Linked DNA regions of Homo sapiens: all the other regions are reported to be linked to region 1. The links are microRNA targets in miRTarBase. Many come from high-throughput screens and were not tested one by one. Region 1 holds a microRNA gene; each other region holds the end of a gene's coding sequence.
What was found. The annotated mature microRNA hsa-miR-660-3p reads ACCUCCUGUGUGCAUGGAUUA and lies in region 1 at 3,439-3,459, opposite strand. An mRNA with a match to its seed (bases 2 to 7 or 8) in the 3' UTR can be bound and repressed. Matches are read on the target gene's strand: a 7mer-m8 pairs with bases 2 to 8, a 7mer-A1 pairs with bases 2 to 7 and ends in A, and an 8mer does both.

Region 1 (4,877 bases):
AGGGTGGGGGAGGGGGGATAAATAGGCAGAACTCAGAGGAATTTTAGGGCAGTGAAACTATTCTGTATGATACTATAATGGTCATGCATGTCATTATACACTTGTCAAAACCCATAGAGTATATAACACAAAGAGGGAACTCTAATGTAAACTATGGTTTACATTAATAATTATATTTAAACTATTATTTAATAATAGTTATAATACATTATAATTATACTATTATTTAATAATAATGTCTCAACATTAGCCCATCAATTTTAACAAGTGTACAACACTCATGCAAGATGTTAATAGCGGAAACTGGGGTGTCTCGAGAATATATAACAACTCTATACTTTCCATTCAATCTTTTTGTAAACCTAAAACTGCTCAAAAAAGTCTATGAATTTTTAAAATATGAAAAGAAACTAAAAGAGCCATTTACACATAAGGAAATTTTGATGCTAAAAATCATCCTGTGTAACACAGAAATCCCCCTAGTAATGACAGAATAGAAATTTTAAGTCATTTAAACCAATGGTTCTCAAACTTCAGTGTGCATCAGAATCACCTGGAGGGCTGTTAAAACACAGATTGCTGGGCCCCACCCCTGACTTTCTGATTACCTAGGTCTGAGGTGAGGCCTGAGAGTTTATTTCTAACAAGTTCCTGGAGGATGCTGATGCTGCTAGTCTTGGGCATCAAGAGAGGTATAAAGTCTGATAAAATAAGACTAAGGCTGAGCAGTAACCAAAATGAGATTTTAGAGTATACAAAAGATAAGGAGCACATATTAAATAACCTGAATCTTTACTGCAGGTTAGATTGGGAGAATCTGGGAGAGAAGAAGGACCAAGGATCAGAATCTATAAGTCCCAAATGTTTAAGAACTTGAGGACTGAAATGGAGTGTGTGTCTCTTTCTGTCTCTGTCACCACTATTTATAATACTGTATTGCTACGCTGACCTGAACACTATAAATTTGCAATGGGCAATGAGCAAAAATGATAAGATGGGGAGGAATGAATAGATCAGCTTAGCTAAGAAGAGAGTAACAACTGAAGAATACTGCTGAGGTCACAGTAGAAAGCACTCAGGCTCAGGCGCTAAGGATGGGAGGAGGGGAGTGAATCAGATCATGGGCACCTGTACTCCCTAGGTGAGAGAGAGAGAGAGATGGAGAGACGGACAGAGAGAGCGATAGACTGAAACAGAGACATGTATAGTCCATCTCTATTTGACTAAAGTAAGGTAATATAAAGATATAGGCTGTTCTCATTTCCATATTGTGTGGGGTGCATACAAGATCAGCAATAAGAAGGGTCCCTTGCTCTTCACCCCCTCTAATTCAAGAAGAGTCTGTAATAGACATCTAAAGGCAGCTCACAGTTCTACTCAGGATGTCCTGGAAGATAAAGGGCAGCTTATAAGCTCAAACTCCTATACATTCTGTAAGTGTAAATCTTCATGAATGTGTGCATCTCCCTGTCCTCAGAGGGGACAGAGTGGGGGGAATAGGAAGACTCTCTCTTTGGCCCCCATCATTTGTGCCCGTCTGAATTTTTCTTCTAAAGCTGCCCATCAGAGAGCACATCCAGTGATTTTGACTCTCGTTTGTCACTGCATCCTTAACACTAAAAAGAGTATCTGTCACACTCTAGAAACTCAAGATATAGGAAGGCAAGAAAAGAGACATATATGCACTCAGTCCATATATATACATATAGGTAGGCAAGGCTCCATCTCATTGAATCCTTGGCTTAATACTTGAGACAGCACTCACATCTAGGTTGGAAGGAAGTGAGGGAGCAAATCAGAAGGCTCTGGTTCCCGCCCACCACCCTGTGTGTGGACAGCAGGTGGGGAACACAGAGAAAGCTCACTGTCTCACTCTGGATACCTGCATACATGGACATTATTTAATAAGGACATTTATTCTAATACACAGACAAGCCCACCAGAGCACCTGAAGTCCCTAACTATTCTGTTCTGTGCTTCCCCAACACACACCCATCACTCAAAAACTATGACAGGGGAGGGTGGGAGGGGTGATGTCTAGGCTCTCTGTCCTTCTTGGTACAGTTGAGCTCCCCCTCTCTGAATCCTTGCCCAGGTGCATTGCATTGAGCCAGCACTAGCACCCAGATAGCAAGGATTAGAGAGGGGGAGCAGGGCAGAAGGCTTGGGCACCTGCCGTGCTCGAAGCAGAGAAGGTTCTCTGTTACACAGCTCTGTGTGAGAACAGGAATGAGAGTCTTGCATTGTGTATATGTTGGGAGAGGGTGTCAATAAGAAGTCCCATGTTGTGGCCCACACTAACTCAGCACGTGCAGGAATATTAGGTGACAAAAAGTCAAGTCTCCTACACATATTCTTTGAGGCAAGAACCAAGTCCATCTTGTGTGATACCATATGCCCACTGCCCTGGCAGCACAGCGTTAGCATGTACTAAGTGCTCAATACTTGTGAAAGGGAGGTAGAGGGGAAGGAGAGGGAGGAGGAAGTGTGACTCACAGGCACTTTGTCTGTCTATGGGCAGAAAAAGGCCCCTCTGAGAGTCCTGGAATAGGTGCTGCACTGAGACAGCATGCACATTTAGGTGGCAAGGATACAAGGGGAAGCAGAGCAGCAGGCTCAGGATGTGCACACCACATATATTTGCACAGGTACCCATGTCTGTGGGAGGGAATAAAGAAAAGCCTGATTTCTGGCACCCTGAGCCCATGTATTCACAGGAAGTTGGATGACATGAGGATGCTTATTCTCCATGAGCCTGCTAGACAGTAAGGTCGGCATCTCTGACAGGTTAGTTTACTGTGGCATTCCCAAACAGCAGGAATTCAGTAAATTTGTTAAAGGGATGAATAAATGAATGGACCAAAAACATGCACACACAAATGACTGACTGAAAGAATGAACAAAGGAAAGAGAAGGGATGGACAGGCTCTGTCCTACACATAGGCAAGGCTCACAAGCTGGTATCCTTGCACAAGCCCATTGCACTGCTAAGACAGCACTTGTGCCTAGGCTGCAAGGCTAGGAGAGGGCAAGCAAAAATCAAAGTCCAGGCACCTGCACACCAGGCATGCATCTGAGTGTGTGTGGCAAGGAAACTTGCAGGCAAGTTTAGATAATAAGGCTCCTTCCTTTCAGCTTTGTACAGAAATGTTTCTACACTTACACATGTGTGTGTGCACATGCATGCACAATGTGAGCATGTGTATTCATAAGAGAATGAGAAGGCTCAATTCCTGACACACCTGTGTCTGTTGCCTAGGCCTGGGGAAGTCTAGGCACCTAATACCTCCACTAGATAGGAAGTCCCGGAGAGAGACACTGTCCATTATTTAGCAGGGTACTCCCAGCACAGCTCATGGCACATCAAAAGTGCGCAATAAACACGGGCTACTTGGATTGTTCAGCAGAAGATTCACGATGACAAGGCTCACCCTCCTGTAATCCATGCACACAGGAGGTGTTTTGAGAATTCACAACTCCGATATGCAATGGGTATGGGAGAAGGAGCAGTTCATTCTTCTGCACATGGGAGGGGGGTGGGGGAGGAGAGAGAAAGAAAGACAGAAAGAGAGAAAGAGAGAGAGAGGAGAGAGATTGATTGATTGATTGAGAGAGAGACAGATTGAGATTAAAGTGTCAGGTGCACGCCTGGAGAAGCAGTGCCAAGTCTATTCCCTAATAAAGTACTTGTTGTGTGTTCACTTAGCCTCATGTGCTCACTGAATGTGTGGTTATGGAGGAGGTGGAGACAGTAATGAAATGATGGCTTCCCTGCCACAGTCTGCATGGACTCGGCATTGGGAACGTACATGAGCAATGCAGGAGCTCATTCTCTTCCACCCTTCACCTGACTAGCTTATCACTGCCCCTAGCTAGCACTTATACTAAATCAGTGATTCTCAAACTTAAGTGAGCATCAGAATCAGTTGAGAGCCTTGGTAAAGTACAGATTTCCATGGTTTATGGTGTAGTAGGTCAGGGATGAGCCCAAGAATTGGCATTTTGAACAAGCTCCTAGGTGATACAGATGCTGCTGGCCCAGGGACCACACTGAGAACCACTGCTCTATACATAACTTAAAGAAATGAAATAATGGGACATAGAGGGGTGATGCAAAGACTCTACACTTTTAAACATGGATGAGATTCCCTCTCTGAATTTTTGTACAAGGCAATGGACTGGAATAGCATTTGTACCCAACTACGAAGAATGAAAGAGAGGGACAACCTGAATAGAAGGCTCGAGCATCTTCAAATCCATTGTGTTTGTGTGTATGTACAAAAGAAACAGCACTCTCTGGCTCACAGGTGATTTTCCTATGACCATACAAAGGTGAAGTGTCTTTTCTTCATATGCATGTGTGAGATGACTGACAAGTAGGGCCACTTTCCTTCAAGCTCTGGTGGCATAAGCAGCAAGTAGAAAGCCTATTGCCTTGCACACCAGACATGAGTGAGAAGATGCTGCTAATGACACTCATTATCCTATGCACACTGTGGCTGCAGCTCTGTGTAAGGGGAGACACACCTTTTGTAGTTCTCTAGCTGAGCACTGTTGGGGGGTTGGAGAGGGGATGATGGGAAGACTCACTCTCTGCTACATACGTATGCATGAACAATGTGGGCAACGGAAGTTCCTTCTCTTAAACATGCTCACTAGGCATGTGAGTATGAGTTCTGTGTCTTTCTTGACCACCCTGTCTCTCCATGTCTGGTGCATGACAGGAGCGCCACCCCTGCTTGTTAAAGGTGGGAATGAATGAAGGATGGGGATTATAAACAGGTGTTCTTCGCTCTATGCAGAAAAGGCTCAGCCGTGGAATGCTTGCCTGGGTGCACCGCATTGACACAGCACTTGCATCCAGGTACCAGGATTCA
Region 2 (4,877 bases), not on the chromosome of region 1:
ATTCTAAACCATTTTATATCATTCTACCTCTTATAGCAGTTTTCTTATTAGAGACTGATATAAGTAATGTTTTTAAGAGGACGTCCCATCATCAATAAGTTTGTGAAATTCTGCATAAAGTAGGGTAGATGAGTTACCTTAATATTAACGTGGATGATGCGTGTTCATGGGTGAGAAGTCATGAGTAGGATTCCCCGTCTTTTGACTCTGCCTCCCACTTTGTAAAGGATCTCATAGCGTTAGCACTCCAGAGAGAACACTTTGGGAAATGTCTTATAGGAAAAAGGAAAATATTTCCAGGTTTTGGAAGAATTGTTGGTGAACAGATTAAAGGAAAACCTAATACTGTATGAGTAAGTTGTTATGTATAAGAAAGAGAAAAGATTGTTTTTCTCTTTAAAGAAGTAGCAAACAGTAGGTGTTTTCCATGTCTCCAAAGAAATACAATGAATTTAAAATGCTTTAGGAAAATGAACTGAATGCTCTTCTGCTCACTCTACCCCACACAAAATGCTCATGAGATATCTATTTAGCATCTTCCCAAAGGAGAGACTTCCCGAGTGTGTCCAAGACTGGGCCATTATTGGAGAGTGATGAAGTGATGATCCTTTAATACTATTCTCTGCTCCATGAATATTTCCAGATACTGACCTTGGTGATAACCTGCTCTTACCTAGACTTCCCATTTTTCCTACTCAAGAAAATTGAAAATGTAATAATATTAACTTTTCTCTTTCTCTCTCCCGCTCCTCTCCCCTTTCCTTCTCCATTTCCCCATCCTGTGTCTTTTCCCTTGTCCTCCAGGAACCTTCTGCATCATTTCACTGTGCACCTGTGTGGCCGGGATCAACTTTGAGCTGTCACGCTACCCACGCTACCTGTACGGACTCCCTGATGACATCAGCCATGGCTATGGCTGGTCCATGTTCTGTGCATGGGGGGGCCTGGGCCTCACACTCATCTCGGGATTCTTCTGTACCTTAGCCCCTTCTGTTCAACCTGTCCCGAGGACCAACTACCCTAAATCCAGACCCGAGAATGGGACAGTGTGCTAAAAAACAAACCCATACATACATATATATATATAAATATATATATATAATATACATATATAAAACAAAACAAAACTAAATCAAGACGATGCCAGTGCCAAGGTAGAGTTGAGTTGGCTCAGGCACCTGCATCTCGCCGGACTTTGTGTTGCCTCATCTCTGAGATGGGGAAAGTTTTTCCATCCTGTGGCTCTTCCATCAGTTCTTGACTTTTGGCTTCATGGTCTCTTGAAGACAGAGCAAACACCACCACTTGCGACCGCGTCTTGATCCCCATCACTGGCGAGGATGGGGTGGTGAAGGGACAGTGGAAGGGGTCTGAGGCAGCACAGATGTAGAGAAGGAAGTGCCACCCACTGGGTCAACGGGAGAGGACGCCACCCCTAACCAGTCATATCACAGGGTAACAAAGCCCTCAGTTCCTAGAATGTAACCAAATTATTGAGGCCATTTTCAGAATCACTTCTTCTCCTGCTCTTCCTGTTCGGACTTCCTTCCCAGCCCACCAGCAACACACAAGGAGTGGAAGAGAAAACAAACTGAGAAGGACGTTTTCTCTTTGCTGCCAAACTTTTGGACCATGTTTCATAGGTGGGAAGGGAAGAGAACATGCTGAGAGGCAAGATCTGCATCAATGAAAGGACGCTTCGGTGGATGCTCAGACAACCCAGTCTTACCTTCCAGCTGCCTTACACCCAGTGAAACAAGAGGCCACCCTGTCCCCAGCCGCACCTGCACTCCCTGGGCAGACTGGAGCCTTGGAGTCATGCTGTGATGTGTGTGTGTGGGTGTGCGTGCATGTGTACTTTGGGCGGTTTCCTTTTTTTCTTTTCTACCTTTTAAATGGAAATACTGCATTATGACTGTTGTCTCTCTTATCACTGTAGTGGTTTCATGGCCCCAGATAGAGGCCCAGAGACCTAGAAATTGTCATGAGGGACAGGCCTATAAGGGTGCCAATTCTGCAGCTACAGATCCCTGGAGTGGTGTGTGTGTGCGTGTGTGTGTGTGTGTGTGTGTGTGTGTGTGTGTGTGGTGGATGTTTCTTGAGCGTGGGGTTTTATTGTTTGTGTTGTGTTTTTTTAAATTGTTTCTGGTATAGCTGAAATTTCCAGAGGGCAGAACCAAGAACAAAGCCACTGGGCCAGAGGACCCCCGTGGTTCTCCACATTACAGCTCTGGGACTCTGCACGATTTAGTCCTCTAATTTTGGAAGTTCAAGACACAGCTGGGCACATAAGCCATGAGAGAAGAGGGGGAACACACAGTTCAGGAGAGAGAAGAAATGTTGCTCTGGTTGCTGTTGTACAAGAACATAAACCAACAAGACCTTCACTCCCCATTATAGAAGCTGTCCTTTGTCACTGGACATCTCCCCTTTCCCTAGGGGTGACCTCTGTACAAACGAAAGGAAGTGGGTCACATGCAGAGAGAGCACCTCCATTTCCCATGGGCTCAAGTTTGTATGATATTGTGTAAATTAATGCAGAACTCTTGACTCTTTCCATCCTCTTCCTTTCCCTCTTGATATTCAAGGCCATGAATCCCAAAATAACAGTCTTAGTGGCTAGCACCCAAACAGAGGTGGAATAAATCCACCCCAGTGTCTCGGGCTCATTTGAGCAAATTAGCACTGCAGGTGCTGGCAAGCAAAGTCAGCCAGAGAGTTGTGAACGCTGTAGGGGTGGGAGTCTGCTGGAGTGGGCTGGAGCCGCTCACAGTCATCTCAGTGAGCCTGCTGGTGCCCAGCAGCCCTGGGGAGGCCAGGTGAGAATCCCTGAGCTGGTGTAGCCATGGTCAACTGTGTAGCAGAGAATCCCCTTGTTTCATAAACAAATATGCTTTGGGAGCTTTGCCAGGCACTCAGCAGCCTTTCTTCCACTGCTGTGTAATCTGTTTCATTTACACGTCTTCCAACCCATCTTCCTACCACTCTCCTCCTTTTCTCACCTACTAACCACTTACCTTCTCTCTCTTCTATCTTCCACCCTCATCTGCTCCTTTGAACTGCGTGTATGTAATTCATATCTGGATATGATATGACATCTGATGTGCATGAATGGGGTTGAATGTGGATCTCTCTGTATGTGTATCTCTCTGGTGCATTTTGTGTACGTTTGTGTCAGTACACACCTGCACACAGGTGTGGGTGCCCTACTCAAGACTTCCTTACCGGGGACTCTGGTCAGCTTCTGCAAAAGGTCTCATGTGTGAGTTCCCTGTGTGTGGGTGTGCTGGGCGATAGGGTAAGGTGTGCAACGGGAAAAGTTGTTAGCTTCCAGTTGGGGTTCTAAGGATTATTTTTAAAACAAAGGATTTATTCTATGAGAAGGGAAATAATTTTCAGGAAAACCCAGTTTTTCAATTGGGCATTTTATTTCTAATTTTCTTTGAAAAGTTAGATTTCTCCCTTAAGGGGAAGGGCATACTTGGGCTTAAGGAAAAGTGAAGAAAAGTATCTCAGATTGAGAGGCCTTTTGTCTTCCTTCCAAGCGTCCTGAAGGGGCTCTGCCGAGGAAGGGACAGACAGGTTCACAAGCATCCATTTGGGGGAGAGGGCTTGTCTATGACCACACTGAAATTCCAGCTTTTTTCCAGTTGCAGGAGAGAGGGGAAAAATTCTAAATGGGGAAATTTGCTATGAACCATTTAAACTTTTTGTAAGTAATCATGTTTGAGGATGCTGGCTCACAGACCTATCATTATTTATATCCTCTTTTTAAAAAAAAATCCCATACTTTCAATGAATAGATTATCTGCTCTATCCAATTATTGTCTTTGTGACAGACATTTAGCAAAGCTTACTGCATCCCTTTGAAACCTTGAGAGTTCCTGAAATGTTAGAAAGCTCCCAGGAAAGACGTAAACAACCTGGGCTCAACTCACCAGCCCAGAGCAGGGGCTTTGAGTGACTTCTTTGATAGCAGGACCAGATAAATACGAACACACTTTGGGATCTGATCCTGCTGGGAAGCAAAAGACGCCCAGCCACATGACCAGGATAGAGGCCCCTTTCAGACGGCAAGTCCTGGCCAATGGGAGGACTTCTCAGGTGACCTTGATCCCTCTAGCATAAGGGCTTGACCACAGATTAAAACATGTGACTCCAACCAGTTACGGAAGCTTTCTGGCTGTGAGGTAGCTGAGGGAGATGAGGAGGAGGAAGAGAGGAGCCTTGACTTGTGAGGCTCTGTAGGTCAGACTCTGCTAACTCCAAATCAAAGTGGAACCCAACCTTATGAGGGCATTTAGGGTCAATGACCTCACTAAAGTCACCAGCCGCAACCCCAGGTCAAGTTCAAACTTCTTACTGGCATATGAACATGTATGTGCTTTGAGCTCCATGCAAGTCAACCTTGAGCCTGGGGCCCATTGCAACTTTTATTTCCTTCCCTACTCTACTACCTTGAGATTCAGGAAAGTGAGGTATTCTACCTAGAGAGAGGTCCCATATCTTTTTCTCCTTATTTTGGGAGTTACGGTTTCTTCTTCTGTTTCCGTTTCCTCTCTCTCTACTCACTCCTACTTTCTCCTGCATCAACTTTGGTCAATTAACATAGACAAGTGATTCATCTGTAGAGAGGCTCCTAGACTCCAAGCAGCCCCCTTCCTTGTTCATTGTGGCTGTAGGTTTTATAAGGAGGTCTGTGGCTCCCTGGCATCAAAATATGAAAAATAAAATCTGTGCCTGTTCCAGCTTCAATCCTCCTCCAAGCCTTAGCTTTTCAACAACCCTACCCTTTCAACTTCAGGGATCATGGAGTCACAGAGACTGGACAACTCCTCCAAATCTAGACAAAGACTTTCTTAAGCGCCCTGAGCCCA
Region 3 (4,877 bases), not on the chromosome of region 1:
GACTGAAGTGTAGTGGCAGTATCTCGGCTCACTGCAACCTCCGCCTCCTGGGTTCAAGCGATTCTTCTGCCTCAGCCTCCCGAGTAGCTGGGACTACAGGCATGGGCGTGCACCACCACGCCCGGCTAATTTTTGTATTTTTAGTAGAGACGGAGTTTCACCACATTGGCCAGGCTGGCCTCGAACTCCTGACCTCGTGATCTGCCTGCCTCAGCCTCCTAAAGTGCTGGGATTATAGGCATAGTCCGCATTATTTAACTGACTGGTTCTAAGGATAAGTTCTGATTTCAAAGGATACAAATAAATAGAGCTAGAAGTTCTATTTTTGCCCTTGCAATTCTGGTCAGAAAACTATGGAGAGGATAGCCACATAAAGAATTCTTGCAGCACAGCCACGAAAGGTTTCCCCCAAATTATTTTGTGATAACAGCAAACCTGCCTCCTTCAAAACCTCTTACTCTCTACCACTCTTCAATTACCCTTCAATAACACTACCCTACCTGGTCTTTAAAAAAAAAAAAGGAAAAGAAAAAAAAAGGCAACACTGCTGCCAGGAACACAGAAAATGCATTGAAGACTTGTAACATAACCTCCAGTTTGCATCCCCAAACCAAAAACCTTTTGGTTCCTTCCTTACTAAAGTCTCCATGATGATGTAAGCCTTCACAAGTCTGCAACTACAGAACCAAATACAAGGTCAAAAAATATGTAGACCAAAGCCATGTAGCTTCTCTGCTTAGCCACATTCACAGATAAAATGTAAACATAAATACTATCTTCACTATGGTTTAGATTTTAACCAGGAAAAAAAATGAAGACAAAATCTGGAAATTTCTGGACAAAACAAAAAGCAACTAAAATACAGGTTTCATGTTTAAGTAAAACTGAAAATAAATTTGTCTCAATGTTTTCCAAGAAAGAGATGATTAATTTATGTAAACACTGCCTTATAATAGTTAAAACAATAAGTTATACCTAACTTACATTTTTCTCAAAACATATATGAGCAAGTGCAAGGCTGAAAAGTTATTTTACAATCCCCATTGCAGTCTGTTGTTAGGTCTCTCAATGTCAATAGCTCTGCAAAGTTAGTTACATTTATTTTTCTATTTGGTCTTAGAATAGAATTTATATGAAGGAAAGAAGACTGAGGTTAATAGCTATTTAAGTTTTTGTTATTGATTGATTGATTGATTGAGGCAGGGTCTCACTCTGTCCCCAAGGCTGGAGTGCAGTGGCATGATTACAGCTCACTGTAGCCTCAACCTCCTTGGGCTCAAGTGATCCTTCTGCCTCAGCCTCCCATGTAGCTGGGACCACAGGCATGCATCACCACGCCCAGCTAATTTTCTAAACAACTTTTTGTGGGGATGAGGTCTCACTTTGTTGCCCAGGCTGGTCTCTTTTACCTGAGCTCAAGTGATCCTCCTGCCTTAGCCTCCCAAAGTGCTGCGATTACAGGCATTAGACACTGCACCCACTCTAATTTGTTTTGTTTTGTTTTGTTTCGTTTTGAGATGGAGTCTCACTCTGTCACCTAGGCTGGAGTGCAGTGGAGTGATCTCAGCTCAATGCAAACTCCACCTCCTGGGTTCAAGTGTTTCTTGTTCCTCAGTCTCCCAAGTAGCTGGGATTACAAGTGCGTGCCACCATGCCCAGCTAATTTTTGTAGTTTTAGTAGAGATGAGGTTTCACCATATTGGCCAGGCTAATCTCGAACTCCTGACCTCAAGCCATCCGCCTGCCTTGGCCTCCCAAAGTGCTGGGATTACAGGCGTGAGCCATTGCACCCAGCCATGTTTTTAAGAGAATGGGTCTTGCTACCTTGCCCGGGCTGGAATGCAGTGGTTATTCATAGGCGTTATAACACACTCTAGTTTCTAACTCCTGGCCTCAAGCAATCCTCCTGCCTCAGCCTCCTCAGAACCTGGGACTATAGCCTTGCACCACTGCACTCGGCTTAACATTTTAGCATTAATGTTGCCATACAGTTTTTTGAACCCTTTCCCAAAAGCCAACATCACTGCCTCCCTAGCTAAATTCAGTCTGTTCTGTCACGTAGAAAAATAACAGTAACATATCTTTTTACCTGAAGGGTCAAACCACTCTAACTGGCATAGGAAACATCCTTTATTTTTCATGATTATGCAACTTCTTTACATGAGATGTTGGCATTTTGTTCCTAGCATGTAACAGAATCAGTGATTTAAGATATCAGATTCTGAGTTGTGAGATTTAAAAGCATAAAAGTTGAATTGCCTTGCAGCATTTCTCAAGTGAGAAATACAAAAATGATGTTCACAGCAGACCCAAATTGGGGTCATTCAGCACTAGCTGAGACTTGTTTGCATAATTTCCTTTCCTACCCAATTCATTCAGGCTCCTATGTAGCTTATACAGGGGTGGGAATATGACTCAAAGTGCAAAAATAAAATATTTCACCCAGATAAGGAAGGAGCAAGCTTCTGCTATGTGGCCTAATTGCAGGCCTCAGAATGCCAGCACCTTTTCTAAGTTTTTGTTTTAAAATGGAATGTAAAAACTACATAATTAATATTCCAAGCAGCTTAAGCTCATTAGTTGGGAGTTTAAATTCCAATTCCATAACCATCCTACTGTCATAACTACTGTAAAAAAATCATTAAAAATAAAGTAACAAATGTTATCATAGATGTGAAATTACTTAAAGTACTAAATTTCTAGTGTTGTAAATAGCAGCTAAGTTATATCACTTCCTGACTGCCAAATTAAGACTAAATAGAAAGAATGTATATACACCATTATATTTAAAAGTAAAAAACAACGAAACTTTTTCATATCCAAGTATGTCTGAGACTGTTTACTTCCAACAGCCAAGAATGATAAATTTCAAAAACCAAAAAGTTATATTTTGCGTGCTGTAAGTTTCTTTTCAGGAGAAAACAATTCTTTGCATGCATACCTCCCTACTTAACGGCATTAAGAACTTTATCTAACATCTGGTAAAACACTCCTATTTGGCTCATTTAATAACACCATTAAAAAAGCATAAAATTGAACTGTCATCTAACAACTATAGCACAAAGAAGTTATTCTGGGTACCTATACCACTAACATTAAGCCCATTTATTTTTATGGATGCAGCCATTTTTCCCTCATGAATACTCACTGAGGGTCACACTGGCACTGCATCTTTTGTTGCATCTTTGGTGAAATATGCCAGCCCTACATTTGCATTAATGAGGAGACCAATGGCATCCTAGCCAGTACTCTGTCACGTCATCTATGGCCTCTTTCATTCTCTTCTTATTTCAGGCATCCTGGTATGCTCAGTATATTTAAAGATGGTTCAGAAGGCAAAAACTCTTTGTCAGTAAAACAGATCATGTCCCAGGGTTGCATTTTTTAAAATGAAACAAAGATTAGTCCAAAGAACAAGTACTGTCACTTGTTAGGGTTTCTTCTTCTAAAGGTAATAAGGAGCTTCAAAACATATTATTTCTTGACTAGAGCCCTACTGGAAATCAATGAAAATTCCTCAACCAGCAAACTGCTCAAGTTGACTTGTTTAAAGTTCAATAAGCAAATACTCAACAGGTAAGGGTACAGCCTGACTTCAATCACAACATTAAGTCTTCCTAAAGAGAAGGGGCAGAAAACATCTACTTAAGCTTTCTGTTCAAATAGCTACATAAGGACTCTTGATTGTTCTTTCTTGCTTTTTATAATCATAACTTTGCTCAGAACAGAAAACTTTACTTTGTCAACACATAAGCCAGGCATCTAAGAACAACCTAGGGGGAGAACGCAAAGTTACTCATTTTCAACAACTATTATATATTTAATCACAAATTCATTAGAAAGATAGTATTCATCCAATTAGTCTTTTCATTATTGCTGGTTTTGAAAATGGCCAACAATATTCATTAGGTACTGTGCCATTAACATTGCATTCAAAAAAAGAGAACATGGGAAACCAAATCCTTGCTCTCCTACTCTGCTGATATGCTCTGGTATTGGCCAGAGTATGGTAGTACAAAAAGAGTCTTGTTGTTATATAAAAAGCAATAAACACATCAATAGAATAATGTTCATGGGCAGCCAAGATGAAGAAGATTCCAAAGAGGTTGAGAACCCAGGATAAAGTGTGCAAGAAATTCCAGCTTCTTGGTGTATCTAGGAAAAGGACAGAAAGATCATTTTAAAGCTACATTCCTTCCAATGCTTCTCAGTCACGTTTCTCAGGTCAGGCTGTTTTGCCATTCTTCACAGGATCTGACACCCTTCCCACAGCCTTCACTGCAGCTAGTTACCTAATACGCATAGAAGCACTAAAAAGATACTTACATTCGGTGACAAAGAAATTCAGCATAGTTAGGACGACTGTGTGGCCACTAAACATGTAATCTCCACATGTGTGAACGCCAGTCAGGGTCATACCAAAGCCACTCCAAATGGCAAAGGCTCGATGTAATTTCTCCCATACACTGCCATATATCTATGAAGAAAAGTTATGAATTAGTGCTTCAAATGCTTAGGGAGGTGGGAACTTCCCAACATCCATTCCTATTGAAATTCAAATGCTGAATAACTTAGAAATAAGATCTAAGCCAAAGCATCTAGGCCTTCAGTCTAATGAATTCCAGCCAGACTTCAAGAATGGGTGGGCAAAGCTTGGCTGTACTCAGAAATATTTTGGTAATTAAATGAAATCAGACTGGGCACAGTGGCTCATGCCTGTAATCCCAGCACTTTGGGAGGCTGAGGTGGGTGGATCACCTGATGTCAGGAGTTCAACATCAGCCTGGCCAACATGGCGAAACCCCAACTCTACTAAAAATACAAAAATTAGCCAGGCATGGTGGTGCACACCTATAATCCCAGCTACTAGGGAGGCT
Region 4 (4,877 bases), not on the chromosome of region 1:
ACTTCACAGCAAGACGCACAGGGTGAAACTGTGCAGGCCCAGGGACCTTGGCATGAGCAGCCTGAAGTAGAAACGATGATGGCGGAATTCCAGAGGGCTGCTGAGCAGGAAAACCGAAACCCGTGGGCTGTGCTCGGCAGGCCGCACGTTCCTCCAAGGACGGGCTGACACCCATGGAGAGCAGCCCACCAAGGGCAATTGGAAGGGAATCCTTGAGGTCAGCCTTAGACGCTGTATCATCATTAAATGCCAGCTGGGCTCCCCCGAGGGTGGGCATCCTGCACCCGCCGCAGAATTTCTTCGCAATTTCCTGATGGTGTTTCCACCTTCCTCCCTCAGTGCTTCCAAAATGGATCCAGCCAAAGAATTTTAATCCCTAAATATGTTCTCTTAAAGGAAACTCCTGTCTGAATACGAAGCATAGCTGGGATTTTTGCAAAGTCCCTTTTACTTCCTGCCATGCCTCCTGCCTTACGGGACTCGTCTTCTTTTATTCTAGGGCCCTTAAGTGAGAAGCAGGAGGCTTTGATGACCAAGAGCCCCGCATCCAATGCACGGCGTCCCGAGGACCGGAACCTGGGGCCCATGTGGCCCATCACACAGAAGATTCTGCGGGATTTCTACAGGCCCTTCAACGCTAGGCTGGCGCAGGTCCTCGCGGATGAGGCGTTTGCGTGGAAGACGACGTGAGAGCTGAATTGTTGCTGCACGTGCTGGGCCCGCCAATGCCGTCATCATCAGGATTTTACAAATCTCTTTGCGGGGAACTGTTTCACTCATGGTATGGAAAACCCCAGGACTCTGCCACTCTAGGCACACATGAATTATAACCATTTTGGAATTTCCTTCGTGATGTTCGAGAGCTCAGCAATGGACCCCTCACAGAGCTCCTCTATCCGAGGCCATTGGAGACCCCAGTTTCTCAAGAATTCAGCTCTGCTCTGAGCGTCCTGGAGCTTGGGGATGCAGCCAGCTGGCCTGCACTGGGTGTGGAGAGAACACCTAGGGAAGGCAGCCTGGCCCTGCCCGCCTCCGCCTTCTGGAGAGCCTCTGGGTTCTGAGTCAGCAAGCCAGAGGTCATGCCACAGGCCTGGCTGGAACTTACACTTCACGTTCCCTTTTTTTCCCCCTAGAGATGGGGTCTCGCCGTGTTGCACAGACTGTCTGTATTCAATGGCTATCTTCACAGGTGTGATCATACCACATTCACTTCTGAAACACTCTTGTTGCGATCGCTAACCTCACTGGGACAGAGAACCGCAGTCTTTCGAGAATGGAGGCTCTTCATTTTTTTTTTCTCCTTTACTCCAAACTCAGCCCTCCAGTTTCTTCAGATGTAAACCCTGTTAACGTCACTGTTTCCAAAAGGAAAAAAATAAGTCAGTTTTTGGCAGCACCTTCATCTTTCTGACCTCCTCCTATTCTGTCCTTGTGGACTTATGTTTAACATAGAAAATGAATGCGTTTAAAACAAAACCACTTTCTGCATTTAACCAGTCCTGGCTCTCTCTCTGCTGCCTCTTCATACGTTTTCTCAAGAACTTCAGTTTATAATTGGAAGAGAAATTTTTGCTGTTAATGCCAGAATGAGCAACCTCAAGGAATTGAACACTTCTTGGAAAATCTAGGTAATTCAAGCCCTCATCAGGTTTACAAGATCATCAGAGAAACAGAGGATTTTAATTTTTAGTTCTGGCCGGCTACAGGCTCCATTTCTCTGCCTTCCCATTGGAAATAGTTTATTTCCACATTCTCCACTGCGTGTGGTCAAAGTTCCTCACCCAGCAAGGGACTATAGATACTCGTGTCCCAATTCCAAAACACAATGCACAAGCTGAACTTGGGCTGAACGTGGCGTGTTGAGATTTGGAATGAGGTTTCTAAGAGCCGTGTTCTTCATGGAATTTTCCAGGCCACTTGGCAGCTTGGTTTACCGATGGATGGGCTAGAGATCTTGTCGTTTCTTGGAAGTCACAGGGAAGATTGAAGAGAACGCTTGAGCATCCTTGGCAACAGCCCAGGTGGGACCTGGATGAAGCTTTGCACTCAAGTATTGTCAAGGGAAGCTTCCTGTGAACCAAAGTTCTCAGGCCAAGGTCTCGCCCACCAAAGCCAGAAAGTGCAAGCACCCGTCTACCCAGCTCTAACTTGTATGTGTGAGACAGACCAGGCTTCGGGGGTAGGAGGATCTGCAGTTGTTCAGCCGTCTTTCTGCTGGTGTTGTCTTTCTGCCATCAGAGAAGGGACACACAGCCCGTTCGAAGGTGTGCAGAGGGCTCTGAGCGCCAGGATGGCCAGGGCTGTTTTTGCTACTGAAGGAGCGTGTGTCCTGAACTCCCACTTGCAGGGACAGTCCCCACCTTCTCTATAGCCGGCACTGGGAGCAGCCGCCAGCAGGGAAATCTGGCCTGAGCACAAGGATGCTTTAGGGAGAGATCACTTCAGTGTGTGTGTATATTTATTTGCAGTACAGTGCGCGCGTGTGTGTGTGTGTACGCGCACGTGTGGGTGAGTGCGTCTTCTGAGTGGGTTCTGTTCAGTTGCTAATGAGGCTCCTCCGCTCTGGACACAACCCTTTTATAGATTAATTTCTCTGCCAATTAACTTGTCATTTTCAGTACATATTTTACTATTCCACACCAACCATAATTACAACAAGGGATTTTTCTTATGCACTCCTATGCATGTGAATAACATGTGGTGTAATTCTGCTTCTTACAGAAGTATTACTGAAGGTATTATTTCCAATATTATTTGGTTTATTATGCGGATCTTTTTTATATATGCAGTCCCATCCCTTCTGTGCCACTCAATGCCATCCAGACATGGTTTTTCCCTCCAGGGGCCTTTCTCTCCAGAGGGCACTTCGGCTGCCTCTGCTTCCTCTCATTCGAGGCCCGGCTCTTGCTGACAGAATAGGTTCCGTTCTGGGCGGTGGTTCTCGAGCCTGCCATTCAAAACCAAAGCAAATTGGAGCATTTCTCACAACATGGTATTGAAGTTCCTTTTTGTTCTCAAAAGTTGTGACCGTGTTAAATTGTACTCCCTTAGTCCTGTAAGGTATGTTAAGTGAATCGCAGTTACGCTGTACTTTTATTAATATTTAACATAATTAAAGATGGACCCATAAGAGTGACGCCTGTGGAGCGCGTGCTCTTCCTCTGCAGCCAAGCTCTTCCTGGTGCATGAGTGAATCGCAGTGGTTTAGTGTCGCACCTGCTCGAGTTGTGCAGGCTCTGTGTAAAGAGGAGTTACAGCTGTGCTGGCTGCTGAGAGACGAGGTGTGATTGTGCGAGCAACAGGCAGAAGAAAACTCAAGACCAGAGAGAAAAGGATTCAGATGTTAGCAGGGACTCCCTGTGCGAGTCCTGTTGGGGTGTGAGTCAGGGTGGGAGGTCTGGCCCAGCCACAGTCAGGCCTAGCGTTGTCTTCAGACCTTCAAATTTGAAGGTTAAGTGACCACAGGCCTCATTCCGGTGGCCTGCCTGGCCCCTGGCAGCTGTGAGTTTGAGACCCCTGGTGTCTCTGGCACATGTCCTTATTGCTGAGGGCAAGCCCGCAGAAGGAGGTGTGGTGTGCACTCAGGTGGGGCAGCCAGGACAAAAGACCACAAACAACGGAAACTGATTTTCTCAGTCTGGAGGCCAGAGACCCGAGATCAAGGTGCTGCAGGGCTGGTTTCTCTGGGGGTCTCTGTCCTTGGCTTGCTGATGGCTGATTCTCTCTGTGTGTTCATGTGGCCACACACACACACCCCTGCTGCCTCTTCCTCTCCTTATAAGGACACCAGTCGGAGTGGATGAAGGCGTGCTCTGACAGCCTCATCTTAACCTCATCATCTCTTTAAACAACTTTATCTGCAAATGCAGTGACATTCTGAGGTACTCGAGATTGGGACTTCAACATACGAATTTGGGGCACACTTTTCAGCCCATACAGAGGGGACATCTCAGGCTTAGGGCTCTGAAAGCTGGGCCATCCTGAGCACAGCGTGGACCATGGTGGGTCCCCCAGTTCTGGGCAGACCTTCCTGGGGGAGCCTTCTCCCCAGCACCACCTCCCACAGTGGTGTGTTGAGGTAGGGGGCAGGTGTGTCCAGGCTGGAAATAGGGAAGACCCCATCTTTTCCTGCGAGGGTCAGGAATGGCTTTACCCAGCAGGGAATGGAGGACGGGTGGGAGTCAGGAGCAGGACGGCTGGGGTGCATCTTTGAGGGCTGAGGGTATGACCTCCCTCCATTTCAGATTTCCTCTGAAAGCCTCTCCCGTGAGGCCACCCACTCCCCACCGAGAAACCAGCCCTCGGGAAGGATCCTGATGAGGAGTATGCCTCTTCCCCACAAAATGACCCTATTTGGGAACTGAAGCAAAGGCTGTGCTCCAGGTGGAGGAACTCCAAGGATCCCTGAGTGTGGAGACAGGGATTATGTGGGTGACTATTTTCCTGTTACTCCAGAAATCTCACCCTCCAGGCAGCTGTGCTGCCTATGGTGAGGTGGATCCCATGGGGACTGATAGGAAAACATCACTCTGATGAATCGGGTTTTCCCAGTACTTCACCGGGCAAGGTTCCCTGCAGAGCAGCAGAGACAGAATAGGTCCCGTGGGGCAGAAGCTGCATCGGCCGGAACAGCTGTCGGCCTGGGAGCTTTGTGAATTTATGTTGCTATAAAGGAGTACCTGAGGCTGGAAATGTATAAAGGAAAAAAGGCTTGTTTGGCTCACGATTCTGCTGGCTAAGGATTGAGCATTGGGTGAAAGCCTCAGGCTGCTTCACGCCTGGCGGAAGGTGAAGAGGGCGGGCTGCGCAGAGGTCACAGGGGAGGGCAGGGCCGGGGGAGGGAGGTGCCAGGCTCTTTTTAACAACCTGCTTTTGCG
Region 5 (4,877 bases), not on the chromosome of region 1:
CTCTGACTCCATTCTGGGAACCCCTCCCAGGTTTCTTCTACCTCCTGGCTGGGGGCCCCTTCCCCCGGAGTGGGCAGTTGCACAGGGCCCAGGAGGCCGGGGAGGGAGGCCAGTGGGGGGAGGCTGGGCCCTGGTAGACCGAGGGGCCTGGACAGGCTGCCTGCCCCTGCCTGACCTGGGTGAGCCTCTGCCCGGCAGGGCGGGCCCTTCACTCCTTCCCTCTCACCCTTGACCCCCTGCTTTCAGATGCTGAGCCAGGGAGGCGGCCCTTCCAGCAGCCATGAGGGAAGGACAGGAGATGGGGCCCACCCCAGTGCCCAGCAACCCCCTGCTCCACCGCTCATTCCCCTGCTGGCCCCGGGGCTGGTCTCACCCAGTGCCAACCCGAGAGCTCCTTTTGGAACCTGCACAGCCCGCCGACCTGTTGCCACCTGCACCCACCGCTGGACCATGCAGCCTCGCCTCCTGGATGCTGTCCCAGCCTGGCCGAGGGTCCCAGGTGAAGACTGGAGGGACCCCAACAGCCACCGCCCAGGACGCTGAGGCTCCCTTGCCTGACTGTGACTTGTGCCTCTCTCCTGCCCCCGTGGGGACATGGCAGCCCAGAGCCAAGGCTGGGTGGGCAGGTGACCCAAGGAACCTTTCTGGGAACACCTTCTCGCCGGGCTGGGAACAATAAATGCAGCCATGTCTCTGCAGCTGGTGCTGACCCCATGCCACCTCTAGACCCGTGCGTACTGGTGCAGCCAGTGTGGGGGTGGGTGGCGGAGCAGGGCTCAAGCCAGCCTCGGTTCCCCATCTGCGACCATGCTTGGGTTCTCCAGCCTTGCTCCCAAGTAAGGAACCCATCTTCAGCTGCCTGGGATGAGGCCCTGCCTGTCAGCATCTCTCTTCCTAGAGAGAACTCCTATTCATCCGTCAAAGCCCCTGCCCCAGGGCCCCCTCTATGCCATCCCTTCAGCCTGGGTCTCATGGGCCCTGCCCTGGAGGATCCCCACATCACCCTCATGAATACCTCTGGCAATGATTCCAGGGAGCCCCAGAGCTCTGCTGCAGGAGGCTGGAGTTCCGTGCGGCCTGGGTCCCCATGCCGGACACTCCTCCCCCATCTGCCTCCTGTGGGACTTGGAGCCTGAGACCCCATCCCAGGCAAGGTGCTTAATCAGCTTCCCTGGGGCCTTGTTCTTCCTGCAGGGGCCTGTGTCTGGGCGGAGTCCAGCCCTGGCCTGTCATCCTGTCCCCCATGAGGTTAGCCTTGGAGAGACCATGGTGCGTGGGTACCCATGGCCTGAGGTCCCCCACAGGCAACCTGTCTGGAGCTGCCACTGCCCTGTCACGAGGAGGAGCTGCCACCAGGTGGCAGCCTTGAGCCGCCCAGTCCTCTGGCTGTCTCCTTGGTCCTAACCCTTCATGTGGGAAAGCAAGTCCAGCACAGCCCATTTGTCACTCCACTTCCTGAACCCACCGTGTCCTCACATCCACTGGGGGATGGGCAGTCCCCCAGGTTTGCATCTCACATACCTGCCGACCCTCCCTGTCTGCCGCCAGGGTTGGGAGGGGCTGTCTCCACTGGGGGCCAGGCTATCGCCCCTTCAGACCAGGGTCCCCTGTCCTGGTACTATCTGTTCCCTTGGGCATGTCCGTCTGACCAGGCCTGCCAAGACTCTGCTTACGTTTCTCCTTCCCCTTCCAGTGCCCTGGGTCCTTCTCTGCCCCAGCCTCAGCTGCCGCCTCCAGGAAGTCCTCCCTGATTGCCCACCCCAGCCTGTTCTTTAGGGGAATCCTGCAGGGAAGGTTGGGGAAGCAACCCTTAAAGTGAGGGCAGAGCCCGAGGGAGGCCCCTGAGACTGCAGGTGGGGAGGGCAGCTTGGCTCAGCCTGGCTGTGTGTGGGACTGGGGACAAGCAAGTCACACCTATGACTCGGGCTCTGCTGTTCCCCATCTGTCTGGCCGTTGCGTCTGTCTCCAAACTCCCGTTTGCATCTCTCCATCTGCCTCCTTCACTTTGTCTCTGTCCGTCTCTGTCTCCATGTCTGACCCTTTGGGACACACTTTTAACAGGCACGGAGACACCAGCCCCGGCCCCCAACCCTGTGATCTGTGCCCCCCGTCCCACAGCTCTGAGCGCTTTCACCAGCTTCAAAAGGCACATTAATTACTCTAATGAGGTCAGGAGAGACCCACGCTCTGCCATCCGGAGTCGGAACATGCCGCAGCCCCCAGCCCAGCCGCCGCCGCCCCCCGCTCGAGCAGGGAGAGGGGCTCTGCTGCCTCCGTCCCCTCTGCCTGTCGGGGCCCGTGCTGCACCCCACGTTGCTGCAGAGTAATTGGCAGCCCCCCAAGGTTAATGCACTGTTAGCCAGGGGTTCTCCTGGGCTCAGAGCCGGAGAGGGGCCTGTCAGCGAGAAATGAAAGGCCCCAGGTCCCGGCTGGTGCTCGGCTTGTGAGCGTGTGTGTGCCCGTGGGAGTGCGTGTGTGTGCGGGTGCCTGGGAGCTTGCGGGGGCGGGCAGTGGCTTCCTCCACCTCTCCCACGCAGACACGCAGACACGCAGGCACCCACAAAATACAGTCTCATAGACACACGGTAAGCAACTCGGACAGTTCCATGGATGGGACGCCCGCAGCCCCGTGGGACACGCGATCACACACATGGGTGTGACCTGCTCAGCTCCTAACCCCACGCCGGGGAGTGTCTCAGACCCATGCCCCCCACCCTTGCCCCTCGGTGTGCCCACTGGACAAGCAGCATATCAGGTCTGTGCCTCTGGGTGGGGGGGGGTGGGGGTCTCTGCTTCAGCAGCGGGCCCCGCCCAGGCTGGAGTCCAGTGGACTCACTGCGGGGCTTCTCCGCTTGTGAAATAGGGGCGGGTGGGCGCTGGGGACGTGGCCTCAAAGGCGGGATGCGTTGGGTTCCTTGCGGCGCCGGCTTGTGCCCACAGCTTGGGGCCGACATTCATCCTGGGGAGATAGAGACAGGGCTCCTCTGCCGCCCTGGTGCCGGGGTGCCCCAGGGATGTGGCCCCATGTGCCAAATCACAGTCACTCGGGTTGGCAGGCGACGGAGGGCTCTCTGCCTCTTCTGGGGGTGCTGAGACCCCTGTACCCTCGACTCCCCACCTCCAGGGATCTCACCCCCAGGTGCCCATCTCCTCTGTGGGGGGCCTGAGCCACCACTGACCCCACATTAAGGCCACTGACGTCCCCGTCCTAGGCCAGCCAGCCCCTGAGAAGCACCCAGTGCTTTGCTGTGGGACACAAAGCCACACATGGCTATTCACGTTATTTCATTAAGTTACATAAAACTGGAGGTCCAGGGCCTCAGTCACCATGGGGAGAGGTCCTCAGTCGCCATGGGGAGAGGTCCGGGTCCTCAGTCGCCGTGGGGAGAGGTCTGGGGCCTCAGTCACTGTGGTGGACAGCGATTGGTGGGGGCAGGGACATTTCCTTTGTCTTGGAAAGTTCTGGACGCTGGTGGTGTCTGGACACTGGAGAACGGGTCTGTGTTCAGGCCCCAGACCTGAAGGTGGGATGAGGGAGAGAGGAAGGAGGAGGAAGGGGAGGAGGGAGGGGACAGAGTGGGAAGGAGAAGGATGTGAATGGAGAGGAAGGATGGGAGGAGGAAGGAAGGAAGGAGGGAAGGGGAGGAGGAGGAAGGAGAGGAGGGTGCAGAGGATGGGGGAAGGAGGGGGGAGGAGGGTGTGAAGGGGAAGGAGGGAGGAGGGAGCGGAGGACTGAGAAGGGGAGGAAGGTGTAAAAGGAGAGGGAGAGAGGAAGGAAGGGAGGGGGTATTAAGGGGGAAGAGAGTGGGAAGGGGGAGGAGGGAGGGGAGGGTAGTATGAAGGGGGAAGGAAGGAGGGAGGGGAGAAGGGTGGGAAGGGGAGGAAGGAGAGAGGGAGGGAGGGGAAGGTGTGAAGGGAAGGAGGGAGGGGAGGTGGGAGGGAAGTAGGGAGGGGGAGGGAGGGGAAAGGTGTGAAGGGAAGGAGGGAGGGGAGGAGGGAGGGAGGAGGGTGTGAAGGGAGGAGGGGGAGGAGGGTGGGAGGGGAGGAGGGAGGGAGGAGGGTGTGAAGGTGTGAAGGGAGGAGGGAGGGAGGGGAGGAGGGAGGGAGGAGGGTGTGAAGGGAGGAGGGAGGGAGGAGGGTGTGAAGGGAGGAGGGAGGGAGGGGAGGAGGGAGGGAGGAGAGTGTGAAGAGAGGAGAATGGGAAGGATGGGAGCTGGGGAGGAGGGAGGAGGGTGAGCTGGGAATGGGGCTGTGTGCCTGCTCTTTTCCACCACTGGCTGCAGGGGTTGCAGGAATCTTGGGTCCATGGCTGGATGGGGGTGGGGATTTTCATGTTACCCACTGGAGAAAGGGATACATTTTTATTTTCAAGGACAGCGACCCAGCCCAGGGGAAACGCCCCTGGCCCCTGGGGCTAAGCGCAGACCCCAGCTCCGTGCTTCGCAGGTGGGGGGCGATGGACAGCGGTGGGGCTCCCGCCCTGAGTGGAGCCTGTGACCTGCCCGGGCCCCAGCGCCCCGTGACCCCTGCCGCCTGATCCTTGCCTGGCTGAGATGGGGCTTCTGAAGGCTGCCGGCACCAGGGCAGGCAGCGCATTGGGTCCAATTTATTCTGTAATGAGAAATTCTCCCCGCATATTTTTAGCTTCCTCCTGGCGTCGCGGCCTTTGAAGGCTGAGGGGCTGCGGGACGCTGATCCCAAGCCCTGTGGCCTGGCCATGTGGGCAGTGGGTGCTGGGCACGGGCTGGACAAGTCCCTTCCTGAGTCTGGGTAGACCCCAGTCCCAGCAGTGCAGAGCAGGGGGCGGGGCCAGACCCCATCAAGCCCTGTACTGGCTCCAGACCAGGGACTGAGGGCGACCCTGGATAACCCCTGAC
Region 6 (4,877 bases), not on the chromosome of region 1:
TCAGGTAACATAAGGCAGCAGGCACATCGCACCTCAACCTTACAGAGTTGGACACAGTGTGAAGGGAGGCTGGCTGGTGGGGTGTACATGGCTGTATAAAAACTGATTCAGCCGGTCGGGCGCGGTGGCTCATGCCTGTAATCCCAGCACTTTGGGAGGCCGAGGCGGGTGGATCACGAGGTCAGGAGATCGAGACCATCCTGGCTAACACAGTGAAACCCCGTCTCTACTAAAAATACAAACAATTAGCCGGGCATGGTGGTCGGTCCCTGTAGTCCCAGCTACTCTCGGGAGGCTGAGACAGGACAATGGCGTGAACCCGGGAGGCGGAGCTTGCAGTGAGCCAAGATTGCACCACTGCATTCCAGCCTAGGCGACAGAGCCAGACTCCACCTCAAAAAAAAAAGGCCGGGCACGGTGGCTCACGCCTGTAATCCCAGCACTTCGGGAGGCCAAGGCGGGCGGATCACAAGGTTAGGAGATCGAGACCATCCTGGCTAACATGATGAAACCCGTCTCTACTAAAAATACAAAAAATAAAGTAGCCGGGCGTGGTGGCGGGTGCCTGTAGTCCCAGCTACTCGGGAGGCTGAGGCAGGAGAATGGCGTGAACCCGGGAGGTGGAGCTTGCAGTGAGTGGAGATCACGCCACTGCACTCCACACTCCAGCCTGGGTGACAGAGCGAAGACTCCATCTCAAAAAAAAAAAAAAAAAAAAAAAAAGTTGGTTCAGCCTTATCGTCTGCTGCTCTTTTTTTTTTTTTTTTTTTTTTTGAGACAGGGTCTTGCTCTGTTGCCCAGGCTGGAGTGCAGTGGTGTGATCACAGCTCACTGTAGCCTCCCAGGCTCAGGCATCCTCCCGAGTAGCTGTGACCACAGGCATACACCACACCTGGCTAATTTTTGCATTTTTTAAAGACAAGGTTTCACCATGTTGCCCAGGCTGATCTTGAACTCCTGGGCTCAAGCAATCCTCCTCCCTCAGCTTCCTAAAGTGCTGGGATTACAGGCATGAGCCACCGTGTTCAGGACTTGCCACTTCTGCATGTCAGTTCTAACCTCACCCCTCCCCTGACTCTCCCGACAGGGACTTCTGGAGCCCCGTCCTGGACAGGAGACAGAGGAAGAACCCTGGAGTCGGAAGCCAGAAGCAAAAGGCCCCGGGCCAGTTCCTCAGACATGGGGTCCACAGCAAAGAAACCCCGGAAATGCAGCCTTTGCCACCAGCCTGGACACACCCGTCCCTTTTGTCCTCAGAACAGATGAGCTCAGGGTAGGGTAGAGAACGCCACTTTCTCAGACCTGTCCCCTTTGTGTTTAGAAATGAGTTAACCAGGACCAAGTGGCCATTTAGTGTCCTGGAAACTTAGAGGACAGTGTTGGCCTTTGGAGTCGGGCCTTCTTGTGTTAAGGGGCACAAGGTCCAGATCACTCTGGAGCAGGCCAGCTCTGCTGGACAGTGACCCTCTTCCCAGGCCTCAGGAGTGACCATAGCCACTGCTGAAAAGTCACGCAGCTGCTCCCTCGGACCCCCCAAGGATGGTTGCTGTTAGCAGAGGATTGGTGCAGTCCCAGCTGAAGCCCACTGTGTGCCAAAGGAAGAAGCTCCCAGGGCTGCTTCCTTCACCTGCAGAAAGCCCCAAGTGAGCCACCAGCACTCATGGGGCAGTCCCTGTCCAGGCTGCCCAGGGCTTCTCATAGACGTCCTGAGAAGGACGGTGTAATGCAAGGAAATGGCTGTGGTAACACTGATCCTTCAGAAGAAGCTTCATTCCCTCTTAATCTAGTTAAGCCAGGACATCCAGAATTCATTGCTTTAATAAAGAACCCAGGCCGGGTGCAGTGGCTCATGCCTGTAATCCCAGCACTTTGGGAGGCTGTGGGGGGCGGATTGCCTGAGCTCAGGAGTTCGAGACCAGCCAGGGCAACATGGTGAAACCCTGTCTCTACTAAAATACAAAAAATTAGCCAGGTGTGGCGGTGTGCGCCTGTAGACCCGGCTACTCAGGAGGCTGAGGCAGGAGAATTGCTTGAACCCGGGAGGCGGAGGTTGCAGTTAGCTGAGATTGCGCCACTGGACGACAGAGCGAGACTCAGTCTCAAAAAAAATTTAAAAATTTAAAAAAATAAAAAGAATCCAACCCCGGCAGGGCGTGGAGGCTCACACCTGTAATCCAGCACTTAGGGAGGCCAAGGCTGGAGGATTGCTTGAGATCAGGAGTTCAAGACCAGCCTGGGCAACATAGTTAGACCTTGTCTCTATTTTTAAAAATATAACAAGCACAGTTGTACACGTCTTTAGTTCAGCTGCTCAGGAGGCTGAAGTGGGAGGATCCTTTGAACCCAAGAGTTTGAGGCTGCAGCAAGCCATGATCACACCACTGCACTCCAGCCTGGGTGACAGAGTAAGACCCTGTCTCAAACTTTTTTTAAAATGAAAGAATCCAACCTTTTTTTACTCTGACCTGCGAGAGTGCAGAGGGTCTGGGGAACATTTGCAGAAGCAACAGGTACCAGCCAGTGCTGGAAGGAGCTCACCCTGGGAGGTCTCGTCAGCCTCTGTCCTTCATGGCTGTCCCTTGTGTCCCATGTGGAGAGCCCTTCCTCCCTTTCCACATGGTAAGCACTGAGCCCAATTTCTTCTCACCCCACAGATGGTCCCTCAGAGCAGAGATGTCTAATGAAAGGTTCAGATTCAGATCACTAACTTTCCATCTTCCACTTTTTCCAGTGGTGGCCATGTTCCCCCGTTTGCCTTCACAAAAACCTTGTGAATAATACAAGCCATATGGACTCTGATTTACAGTTTAGAAGATGAGCAGAGGTGGGTGTGAGTTGCCCAGTCATGTTGCTAGTTGTTGAAGAAACTAGGATTGTTCTCAGGTCTTGGGCTCCTGGCCCATAGACCAGTGGCTCTGTGTTCTGATGGGGTATTGGGGAGGATTTTTACAAATGCAGGTTCCTGAGATTGTTCCTGGAACATCTCCGAGTGGGTGTGGGTTGTGGCCCTGCGTGTGTGATTTTGCCTATCCCAGCTCCGGGGTACCACCAACCACTTTTTGTCTCTGTGGGTTTACCTACTCTGGATATTTTGTTTAAATGGAATCATACCAGGCTGGGCACAGTGGCTCACGCCTGTAATCCTAGCACTTTGGGAGGCCAAGGTGGGCAGATCACCTGAGGTCAGGAGTTCGAGACCAGCCTGACCAATATGATGAAACCCCGTCTCTAAAAAAATACAAAAATTAGCCGGGCGTGGTGTCAGGCACCTGTAATCCCAGCTACTCAGGAAGCAGAGGTTGCAGTGAGCTGAGATCGGGCCATTGCACTCCAGCCTGGGCAAAAAGAGTGAAACTCTGTCTCAAGAAAAAAAAAAAAATGAAATCCTACCATACATGACATCCTGTGTCTGGTTTCTTTGACTTGGCTGATGTTTGTCAGGCTCATCCACATTGTAGCATGTCAGTCCTCGATGTTTATGATAAGCTGATAGCCCACTGTATGAATATACCACACGATTATCCATTTGTCAGTTGATGGACATTGGGTTGTTTCCACTTTTTGGCTATTGTGAATAGCACTGTTGTGAACATTGGTGTATGAGTGTCTGATGACTTGTTTTCAGTTATTTTGGGCATATGCCGAGGAATGGAATTGTAGTTTTATACCATAACTCCATGTTTTGACTTTTTGAGGAACCTACAAATTTTCCACAGTGGATGCACCACTTTACACCCACCAGCAGCACACCAGGGTTACTGCTTCTCCATATCCTTGTGAACACTTGTTCCTTTCCTTTTCTTGTATTATAGCCATCCTAGTGTTTTGTCATCCTAGTGGGTATGAAGTGGCGTGTCATTGTGGTTTTGTTTTGCATTTTCCTAGTCATTAATGACATTGACCATCTTTCCACAGGCTTACTGGCCATTGGTATACATTCTTTGGAGAATGTCGATTTAAGTTCTTCACCCATTTTTTATTTTTTATTTTTTATTTTTTTTTGAGATGGAGTTTCGCTCTTGTGCCCAGGCTGGAGTGCAGTGGTGCGATCTTGGCTCACTGCAACCTCTGCCTCCTGGGTTCAAGCAGTTCTCCTGCCTCAGCCTCCCAAGTAGCTGGAATTACAGGCATCTGCCTCCACACCCAGCTAATTTGTTTAGTATTTTTAGTAAAGACGGGGTTTCACCATGTTGGCCAGGCTGGTCTCAAACTCGTGACCTCAGGTGATCTACCAGCCTCGGCCTCCCAAAGTGCTAGGATTAACAGGCAGGAGCCATCACACCTGGTCTCTTCCCCCATTTTTAAATTGTGTTGTCTGTCTTTGTTGTTGAGTTGTAGGAGTTCTTAATAGTTTCTGGATATCAGATGCCTTTGTGGTTTTCACATCTCTGCAGGCAACTGTGTGTCTCAAAAGCAAACTGCAGGATTGGGCTGCACCATGGACTGGGCCAGGCATCTGAGATCAGACAGACCCAGGCTCAGCTCCCACTTCCTGGCCTCTTCTGCCACCCTGGGTGTGCAGCCTCATCCTTGGAGCCCCAGTTGCCTCATCCGTAATGGGGTGTCCTTGTTCATATTGAGGCTCTCTAGTGAAGGCTTACGGTCAGGCACGACTGCAAATTAAAGCTTCACAAATCAAACCTGTTGGAATTTCTAAGTCTCTCTCGATGGCCCACTCAGGTTAGCAGCATGCAGCTCATCCTACCCCGTCAACGTTGACTGGAAGGGTTTTTAGTCCCTGTGTTGAGCCACATCTGCAGCTTGTGCAATGCAAAACCAAGGAAAAGAAAATGGACCCCCCCCGCCCCCCCCTTGATGGATCTAGCTGAGACTAGGCACTGGCCAGGCTGTCACCTACAGTGGTTTCAACCTCCTGC

Region 2: the mRNA of TMEM178B is a reported target of hsa-miR-660-3p. Seed matches in the 3' UTR shown: 7mer-A1 at 4,207-4,213 and 7mer-A1 at 4,210-4,216.
Region 3: miRTarBase lists SAMD8 as a target of hsa-miR-660-3p. Seed matches in the 3' UTR shown: 8mer at 1,902-1,909, 7mer-m8 at 1,584-1,590, 8mer at 1,424-1,431 and 7mer-m8 at 44-50.
Region 4: miRTarBase lists CHST15 as a target of hsa-miR-660-3p. Seed matches in the 3' UTR shown: 7mer-A1 at 2,182-2,188.
Region 5: the mRNA of FAM174C is a reported target of hsa-miR-660-3p. The part of its 3' UTR that is shown has no 7-base or 8-base seed match.
Region 6: the mRNA of TOP3A is a reported target of hsa-miR-660-3p. Seed matches in the 3' UTR shown: 7mer-m8 at 2,006-2,012 and 7mer-m8 at 2,313-2,319.

What each region holds. Positions count from the first base shown.
Region 1 is chrX:50,011,874-50,016,750 of GRCh38, reverse strand. It overlaps MIR660 (microRNA 660), which reads right to left and starts at 3,510; the gene lies at 3,414-3,510. The region is part of intron 3 of CLCN5 (chloride voltage-gated channel 5); the gene reads right to left. It overlaps MIR502 (microRNA 502), which reads right to left and starts at 2,153; the gene lies at 2,068-2,153.
Region 2 is chr7:141,469,732-141,474,608 of GRCh38, forward strand. TMEM178B (transmembrane protein 178B) reads left to right here. Exons shown (of 4, transcript NM_001195278.2): 4 at 805-4,877. The coding sequence ends at 1,055. Among named protein-coding and RNA genes, the nearest start is that of AGK-DT, 79 kb to the right of the region's middle.
Region 3 is chr10:75,175,666-75,180,542 of GRCh38, reverse strand. SAMD8 (sterile alpha motif domain containing 8) reads right to left here. Exons shown (of 6, transcript NM_001174156.2): 5 at 4,327-4,477; 6 at 1-4,155. The coding sequence ends at 3,851. Among named protein-coding and RNA genes, the nearest start is that of VDAC2, 33 kb to the left of the region's middle.
Region 4 is chr10:124,005,962-124,010,838 of GRCh38, reverse strand. It overlaps CHST15 (carbohydrate sulfotransferase 15), which reads left to right. Exons shown (of 8, transcript NM_001270764.2): 8 at 500-3,171. The coding sequence ends at 690. Among named protein-coding and RNA genes, the nearest start is that of CHST15, 85 kb to the left of the region's middle. RefSeq lists an enhancer at 4,765-4,877.
Region 5 is chr19:1,278,531-1,283,407 of GRCh38, forward strand. It overlaps FAM174C (family with sequence similarity 174 member C), which reads left to right. Exons shown (of 3, transcript NM_017914.4): 3 at 247-698. The coding sequence ends at 247. Among named protein-coding and RNA genes, the nearest start is that of EFNA2, 4.9 kb to the right of the region's middle. RefSeq lists enhancers at 1,097-1,206, 4,057-4,877.
Region 6 is chr17:18,271,191-18,276,067 of GRCh38, reverse strand. TOP3A (DNA topoisomerase III alpha) reads left to right here. Exons shown (of 19, transcript NM_004618.5): 19 at 1,088-4,640. The coding sequence ends at 1,266. Among named protein-coding and RNA genes, the nearest start is that of MIEF2, 13 kb to the right of the region's middle.